Regions from separate parts of the Homo sapiens genome. Here all the other regions are linked to region 3. Evidence: fine-mapped expression QTL. A gene starts in region 3. Each other region holds a variant in brackets. All regions are shown on one strand. Distances are between the middles of the regions. Region 1 overlaps SLC1A5 (solute carrier family 1 member 5). Region 2 overlaps STRN4 (striatin 4). Region 3 holds the start of STRN4 (striatin 4).

Region 1 (2,500 bases), 37 kb before region 3:
TTGGCCTTAGCTACTATTTTCATCTTAAGGCAGACACTGTCACACAAGAGTAAGGGTAGCCTTGTAAACACAGATGCATATTCATGAGATATGAAGCCGTCCCTTTTCTCCCTCCCCGCCACCGCCTCCCAACACACCCAGATCCTCCCCCATACTCTCAGAGCCGCTGGCAGGCCCTCCAGGAGGAAGTGGCTGATGCAAGCTGTCCAGGGTATTAAGTTTGCTGCATGGGGTGGAGCTGAGGCCCGGGGCGACCTGCCCTGGCCTGCCGTGGGAGGCCAGCATTCCTCACCCCGAACCCACAATGCCTCAGGGCTAGCACGCCAGCCTCTTGGGGCTGAAGGAGGCTGACTCCCCAAGTCCTGCAAAGGGGTGCAAGCCTAGTTCCAACCCTGCCGGGCTGAGGCATGAGTAGGGGCTGTATTTGCGTGCAGGCGGGCCCCCAAAGCTTCCACTCGCTGCCTTAAAACGCCAACCCAGCCTCTCAGACAATGCTGCCCTCCCACTATGGTATCTAATAACCCTCTGTGTGTCTGTCTCTGCAGAAATATCTTCCCTTCCAACCTGGTGTCAGCAGCCTTTCGCTCAGTGAGTCCTCAGGGGTGTCCTGAGGGGATGGGGGTGGACAGGGAGGGATGCCAGCCAGGGGGAGCCCTTGCTACCTGATTTTGGTTAGTTCCTGGAAAAATGCATGTCAATGAGAATACGGGCTCAGAGCCTCCTGTGAGTTTTAATTCTAGCTGTGTGACTCTGGGTAAATGTGTTTACCTCTCTGAGCCTCGGTTTTCCACCTCTGGAAAATGGGGGTATTGATCATCCTGCCCCATGGGGTTGCCAGCAGATGAAATGAGATCACATTGAAAGGATGTGGAAGGGCAGGCTTTGAGCATTGTTAGCTTGGCATGGGGTTGGGAGGCCCTGGTAACGATGGACACTGACTCTTCCCAACCCCACCTACAGTACTCTACCACCTATGAAGAGAGGAATATCACCGGAACCAGGGTGAAGGTGAGAGCAGTGGGAGGCAGCGGGGGCTCTACCTCTTTGCCTATTGCTATAATTTTTTGGTTTTATTTCTGCCTTAGTCTTTGCTGTGGAATTTGATTGACACTCTGCAGTCCTTCCCCAATTTCTGTCTTTTCTGCCTTCTGGATAGGTCTCTACTTTGTCCCCTCTTTTCCCACCCCAGGTG[C/T]CCAGGCTCTTCCTTTCTCCCTCACCCCCCAACCCCATTCCATGCTGCCCTCTCCCTGCCCCCTTCCATCCACCCTCAACCTGCTCAAACTGGCAGCCAGCCAGAGGTTTTTGTTGTTGTTTTTCTGACACAGGATCTCTCTCCATCATTCAGGCTGGAGTACGGTGGCACGATCACAGCTCACTGCAGTCTCCACCTCCTGGGCTCAAGTGATCCTTCTCACCTCAGCCTTCCCAGTAGCTGTGACTATAACACACCTGGCTAATTTCTGTATCTTTTATAGAGACTGAGTTTTGCCATGTTGCCCAGGCTGGTCTTGCACTCTCGGGCTCAAGTGATCTGCCCACCTTGGCCGCCTCGCAAAGTGCTGGGATTACAGGCGTGAGGCACTGCTCCTGGCCCTGAGTATCTTTTCTTTTCTTTCTTTCTTTTTTTTTTTTTTTTTTGAGACAGAATTTTGTACTTGTTGTCCAGGCTGGAATGCAATGGCGTGATCTCGGTTCACTGCAACCTCCGCCTCCCGGGTTCAAGTGATTATTCTCTTGCCTCAGCCTCCTGAGTAGCTGGGATTACAGGCATGTGCCACCATGCCCGGCTAATTTTGTATTTTTAGTAGAGATGGGGTTTCTCCATGTTGGTCAGTGTGGTCTGGAACTCCCCACCTCAGGTGATCTGCCCACCTTAGCCTCCCAAAGTGCTGTGATTACAGGCGTGAGCCACCGTGCTCCGCCCGAGGATCTTTTCAAAACACAAATGTGACCCTATCTCTGCAGTACCCAGAGCCCTGCCATGTGCCTCAGTGCCTTCAGGAGAAAGTCCAGTCTCCTTGCTACAGTCTATGACCAAGGGCTCCCTGTGAGGTCAAACCCCTGCCAGCCCGCCTGGCTGCCCATCCTTAACTAGTGACCCTGCCCAGATTATTCTACTCTAGCCACAGTAGATTATGGCTCTTCTTTGAATGCCCAAGTTGCACTCATTTCTAGGCTGTTGCACATTCTGCTTCCTCTCTGTAGATCTTTCTACCACCCTTCTTTACCTGGTTCACTCCTCTTGTCCTCCAGGTCTCAGCTCAGATGCTCCTTCCTCCAGGAAGTCCCCCCTGACTGCCCCCTACTCCCCAAGCTGGCACTGCCCTCTCTTGGTTCCCACACTCCCCTGGACTCCCTTATTCCAGCCCCACCTACTCTGGGCCATCCCTGACGACTAATATATTTCCCCTGGACCTGGACTGGGAGCCTTGGGAGGAAGGGGTCTGAGGGCTGCCTTGTCTCTGCTGGGTCCCAGTGGTGCCAAGGACAGGCCCTCAGT
Region 2 (2,838 bases), 22 kb after region 3:
CCCCAACCCCAGCTGTCTGACAGCAAAGATGCTTTTAAGAAGACGTGGAACCCCAAGTTCACCCTGCGCTCGCACTACGACGGCATTCGTTCCCTGGCCTTCCACCACAGCCAGTCGGCTCTGCTCACCGCCTCCGAGGACGGCACGCTCAAGCTCTGGAACCTGCAGAAGGCGGTCACGGCCAAGAAGTGAGGGCAGCAAGCTCAGAGCCGGGGGCAGGGGCATCTGGGGACGGGGGTGACAGGGTCTCAGTGACATCAGGCTCCTCTGTCATCCCACAGGAATGCGGCGCTAGATGTGGAACCTATACATGCTTTCCGGGCTCACAGGTAGGGAGGTGCCCCTGAGCCTGCTAGAAACTCGTCCTAAATGCAGCCTGACTCCTGACCTGCTCACTGCCATCGCGGGAGGCCCACGGCAGGAGGCAGGACAGCAGGGGGCTCTGAGTCCCCGCCCCCTTCATGATATACACAGCCCTGGTTCTTGGGGCTCCATGCTGACTTTCACATGCCCTGGCAGCTGGTACTCAGCACAGCCCTTCAGGGGAGGAGATGGAGGTGGGGTGGGGGAGGGCAGGGGACAGGCAGCTTGTCCAGGTAGCATGGCCAGAGCCCCAGTCACTGAATTCCTTTTGGCCATCCTTGAAGAATGCTAGTAGGGAACTTAGGTCCTGTGGCCAGGGGAGGCCCTGAGCTTGTCTCATCCCCCTTTCCACATATTTGTCCCTTCCAGGGGCCCAGTGTTGGCTGTGGCTATGGGCAGCAACAGTGAATACTGCTACAGTGGCGGGGCAGATGCCTGCATCCATAGTTGGAAGATTCCAGACCTCAGCATGGATCCCTATGATGGCTACGGTGAGGACAACGCCTCCCGCCTTCCCCTCACATCCACTGGGGCCTGGCCGTCCCCTCCACGCACACACACGTCGCGTCCACCTCTTGCCAACACTGCAGGCCTCAGGAGTGCGTGTGACGGCTCCCCTGTCTGCTCTGTTGTGAGCAGCGCGATGCAGCGCGTGGCCAAGGGACGAGCCAGCCGGGATGGGAATGATGGCTGTGGGAGGAGGTGGTGAAGCTGCCTGAGAATCTCTGTGAGCCGGCGTCCAGAAGGCAGTGCTGAGGCAGCCCAGGCTGGGAGCAGCCCATGCACAGG[C/T]GTGGCTGGCCCTGGCAGCCTCTGCTCTGCCATGCCGTGTACTCTGTGTGTGGGGATCCGCCAGGGTCTCTGCGTGGTTGAGGGGAGGGCATGTCCAGAGAAAGCAGAGAAGGTGGAGTTAGCTGGGCCAGGCTGGAGCGCGTTGGGGCTTTCTCTTTGGAGCATCTAAGACCTAAGTAGGGAAGTGACCAGACTGTCACTTCTGTTCAACATCTGTCCCCCTGTTCTCTGCCTTTTTTTTTTTTTTTTTTTTTTTTTTGAGACAAAGAGTCTCACTCTGTCACCCAGGCTGGAATGCAGTGGCGTGATCTTGGCTTACTGCAACCTCTACCTCCTGGGTTCAAGTGATTCTCGTGCCTCAGCCTCCCGAGTAGCTGGGATTACAGGCACGCACCACCATATCCAGCTATTTTTTGTATTTTTGGTAGAGACAGGGTTGCACCACGTTGACCAGGCTGGTCTTGAACTCCGGACCTCAGGTGATCCACCCACCTTGGCCTCCCAAAGTGCTGGGATTGCAGGCATGAGCCACTGCGCCCGGCTCTGCCTCCTTGATCATGCACCTGGCCCTGTGCTCCACCTTGTCTGGGCAGAGTTCAGAGGTCTTTGTCTCCTCTCAAGGGGAGGACAGACTTTAGAGAACAGGCTCACCTGCACAAGGTCAGGATCGGTCCCAGCTACATTAGCCACCACACTTTCGGTGTCAGCAGGCCAGAGCTGCTGGTGTGGACTCCAGCAACCAGGGAAGCAGTGATTGGACCTCTGAATGACCAGGGGGCTTTGGAGAGACCAGGCAAAGCCCATGCACTTGGCCATGGGCTGAAAAGACTGCTCGGGCCAGGGTTGGGACCAACCCTTGTCCAGCACAGGCTGCGTGCCGCTCCTGGGGCCACAGAACCATGCTGTTCCTTCTTCCTTAATGGAGCCCGAAAAATTCTGTATTGAGCTCCCAGTTTCTGGGCCCTGCTTGGGGAGACAGCTGTGAATAGAGGGAAATCCCTGCCTTCTGGAGCCCTAGAACCTTCCTTGGAGAGCTAGTGGGCAGTGTGAGCAGCTGCCGGGCTGTCCTGGCAGTGGACAGTTCCGAGGGGCACCAGGTGTGAAGTGGGTGCGTGGGTGATTGGAGCCCAGCTGCCTGGGGCTTGGCAGAGCTGGGGCTCTGGGCTGTCCAGGGAGGAGCTGGCAGCCCTGACACAGCCCATTTCCTCCCTGCGGTGGGTGCAGACCCAAGCGTGCTGAGCCACGTCCTGGAGGGCCACGGGGACGCCGTGTGGGGCCTGGCCTTCAGTCCCACCTCCCAGCGCCTGGCCTCCTGTTCTGCTGATGGCACCGTCCGCATCTGGGACCCCAGCAGCAGCAGCCCGGCCTGCCTCTGCACCTTCCCCACAGCCAGCGGTGAGTGGGGGCCCCGGTGCCTCACCCTGGAGCTGTGCGGGATCTGGAGGCTATCAGAGTGGTTCCTGCTGAGGCCCCAGGCCTCCCACCCACTGTCCCCCACCCTGGGGCAGGGCTGGGTCTGAGGGTCCATTCAGCAGCCTTCTCTTCCCTGTGCCCTCAGAGCACGGGGTCCCCACCTCAGTGGCCTTCACCAGCACCGAGCCTGCCCACATCGTGGCCTCCTTCCGCTCTGGCGACACCGTCTTGTATGACATGGAGGTTGGCAGTGCCCTCCTCACGCTGGAGTCC
Region 3 (2,801 bases):
CATGACAACCCCTTCCATAGACACACTCTACCTCTGAGAGACATTCTTAAAACATCCCCTGGCCGGGCGTGATGGCTCACACCTGTAATCCCAGCACTTTGGGAGGCCGAGGCGGGCCTGAGGCAGATCACCTGAGGTCGGGAGTTCAAGACCAGCGTGACCAACATGGAGAAACCCCGTCTTTACTAAAAATAAAAAAAAAATTAGCCGGGCGTGGTGGCGCATGCCTGTAATCCCAGCTACTTGGGAGGGTGAGGCAGGAGAACGGCTTGAACCGGGGAGGCGGAGGTTGTGGTGAGCCGAGATTGGGCCATTGCATCCCAGCCTGGGCAACAAGAGTTACACTCTGTCTCAAAAAAAAAAAAAAAAAAAAAAATCCCCTCCTTTGTTGGGCTTGGTTCCTAGGGTCACTCGAAGGGGGCTGCTCTATTATCATAGTAACCAGGCCTTGAACTTGCCTGTTTCTCACCTTCCGGAGGAAGGTCCAGGCCCTGTAACCATAGCAACTGCCCCTCAGCAGAGCATCTCCTCTAAATAAAAACACCTGGTTAGTTTGGTGCATGGGCCTCCCACGATGGGAAGGGGAAGACGGTTACCATGGTAATGCCAACTAGGTGGCTATGGGGGAGGGGCTGGGGAAGAGGTGCTTCTCTTAGAGATCAGTGTCCTTGGGGCTGGGGTCCTTTCTACCTGAATGCTAGGTGGGGGGGAGGTTGCCATAGTAATCAATGAGGATAGGAGCAGAAGGACCACCACGGACACTTAGGTTACCTTAGCAACCTTCTCCTGGTGCAGAGTCCTAAGAGGTTTGGGGCTCCATAACCACAAAGGTGGAAGCGAGGGGAAGGCTGCTCCCCACCACCTCGCCCCCACCGCTGGGGAAGGGTTACCATGACAACCAACCTGGCCGGCAATCAGAGAGGATGGGGCCACTGCTGGTCGCCCTTTCTCTCAGAGTAAAAGTAATTGTCCAGGAGAGTGGTGTTTGGGTGTGGAAGGGGTAAGGCTCTTTCTCTGGGGCGAAGTGGGAGGAGGGGGGCAGAAAGCGGCCCCTTCCTCAGTCTCACTCCAGCGAGGGGGACCGTCGCGCGGGGCCTGGGTCTCCCTCGCCCTCCTCGGGGCGCGATCTCCCACCCGCCGGCCCCCGCGCGGGCACGCTACCCTTCGGTGTAGACCCGGGTGGGCGAGGCTCGCGCTCGCCGCCGGCCCCCCTTCCTACTGTCCCCCGCCGGGCGCGCGCGCGGTGGTTGCGGCGGGGGAGGGGGGGGGGTGTTGGCGCGGCCGCGCAGGCGCGCGAGGCACAGCGGGCGCGCAGGCCGGCCCCGGGGCCTCCATGATGGAGGAGCGAGCGGCCGCCGCGGTCGCCGCCGCCGCCTCCTCCTGCCGTCCGCTCGGCTCAGGCGCGGGCCCTGGCCCCACTGGGGCGGCCCCGGTCTCCGCCCCTGCCCCCGGGCCGGGCCCGGCAGGTAAGGGAGGCGGCGGCGGAGGCAGCCCCGGGCCCACGGCGGGCCCGGAGCCCCTGAGCCTGCCGGGGATCCTGCACTTTATCCAGCACGAGTGGGCGCGCTTCGAAGCCGAGAAAGCCCGCTGGGAGGCCGAGCGCGCCGAGTTACAGGTGAGCGCTGTCCCGGGACCCCCGACCCCCAACCCGGCCCGGCCCGGCCCGGCCTCACCCGCTGCCGCCGCCGCCGCCATCTTGGAGCAATGGCCGCCGGGACGGCCGGCGGGGGGGCGGGAGGGGACCGCGACGGTCCCGGAGGGCGAGTGAGGGGCCGTCCGAGGGGTGTCCTGAGGGCACTCCGGGGTGGGACGGGACCGGGACGGCCCGAGGTGGGAGTGGAGGGACCGGGGGTGGGAGGGATCACCGGGACCGGCCGAGAGAAAGGGGCGGAGGGACCACAACCAGCTGGGAGTGGGACTGGGACTGGGACTGAGCACGCTGGCCGCGGGGCTCCTGAGAGAGGCGACTCGAGCCCTGGAGGGGAGGCTAAGAGAACTCGGGAAAGGGTGTGGAGAGGAGCTGGAGGGGTCTGGGAGACCTGAGTGGTCTCCTGTGGGAGTAAGCAGAAGCTTGCCGGGCGCCGAGGGACTCCCGACCCCGACCCCGACCATGGCCCTAGCCAGGTGCAGGTTGGAGGTGGGAGCGTCCAAGGGGGGAACTTGGGACCCGCTGGGAAAGAGCGGGTCCAGATGGGGAACCGGGAGGATTTAGGGAGAGGAAGTCGGGAACCTGGGATCGGTGTGTTTCGGGGCGACTGGACGGTGGGCACGGAAGGAGGGCTGTGTAAGGACCCGAGGGGTGGGAGGAGGGTTTCAAGGGGTCCAGGATGAAGGTGTGTGCCTTCCCCTCTGAGGAGAAACTTTGGGGATCCCGGGCATGTGTGGCTGCACAGTGCAGGGAAGGGTTCTTTGGAGTGGAAGTGTGGACAGAGCAGGGAATGTACCCTAGGAGCCTGGATGGGAGAGCTTAAGAGTGGAAGTTCCACTTTGGGGGTGTGCAGGAGTGGGCGCGATGGCACTGAGATGGCACGTGTGTTGTAGGATGTAGGTAGAGAGCCCTGAACTGGAGTGTGGGGTGTTGGGCATGTCCAGTATGGAGGTGAGGGTCCTGGGATGGTGCCAATGAGGACGAGTTAGGGGTTACCCTGGGGTGATGCTTTAGGGGGGAGAATTTTGTAGAGCCCGAAGGCAACATGAGGAGGCATCTCGGAACGGGGGTAGACTGGGGTTGGGGGGAAGGGGATATGTTTGTGGAAGTCTTGGGAAAAGACCCCGTGGTTTTTGGGGTAGCTTGGGACAGG

What was found. PIP is the estimated chance that this variant, and not a neighbour inherited with it, causes the effect.
Region 1: its variant is fine-mapped to the expression of STRN4 in prefrontal cortex (GTEx, PIP 0.93).
Region 2: its variant is fine-mapped to the expression of STRN4 in whole blood (TOPMed, PIP above 0.99).

Annotation. Positions count from the first base shown.
Region 1 is chr19:46,782,605-46,785,104 of GRCh38, reverse strand. It overlaps SLC1A5 (solute carrier family 1 member 5), which reads left to right. Exons shown (of 8, transcript NM_005628.3): 2 at 546-588; 3 at 961-1,008. Among named protein-coding and RNA genes, the nearest start is that of SLC1A5, 4.7 kb to the left of the region's middle. RefSeq lists enhancers at 98-437, 1-455, 1-1,137. The variant C/T (reference allele first, on the strand shown) is at 1,193.
Region 2 is chr19:46,722,823-46,725,660 of GRCh38, reverse strand. STRN4 (striatin 4) reads left to right here. Exons shown (of 18, transcript NM_013403.3): 10 at 13-188; 11 at 282-329; 12 at 733-854; 13 at 2,377-2,547; 14 at 2,711-2,838. Among named protein-coding and RNA genes, the nearest start is that of PRKD2, 7.1 kb to the right of the region's middle. RefSeq lists an enhancer at 1-316. The variant C/T (reference allele first, on the strand shown) is at 1,153.
Region 3 is chr19:46,744,963-46,747,763 of GRCh38, reverse strand. STRN4 (striatin 4) reads left to right here and starts at 1,314. Exons shown (of 18, transcript NM_013403.3): 1 at 1,314-1,615. The coding sequence starts at 1,334. It overlaps FKRP (fukutin related protein), which reads right to left and starts at 1,707. Exons shown (of 4, transcript NM_024301.5): 1 at 1,674-1,707. RefSeq lists silencers at 889-938, 979-1,078, 1,119-1,268, 1,279-1,328, 1,539-1,768.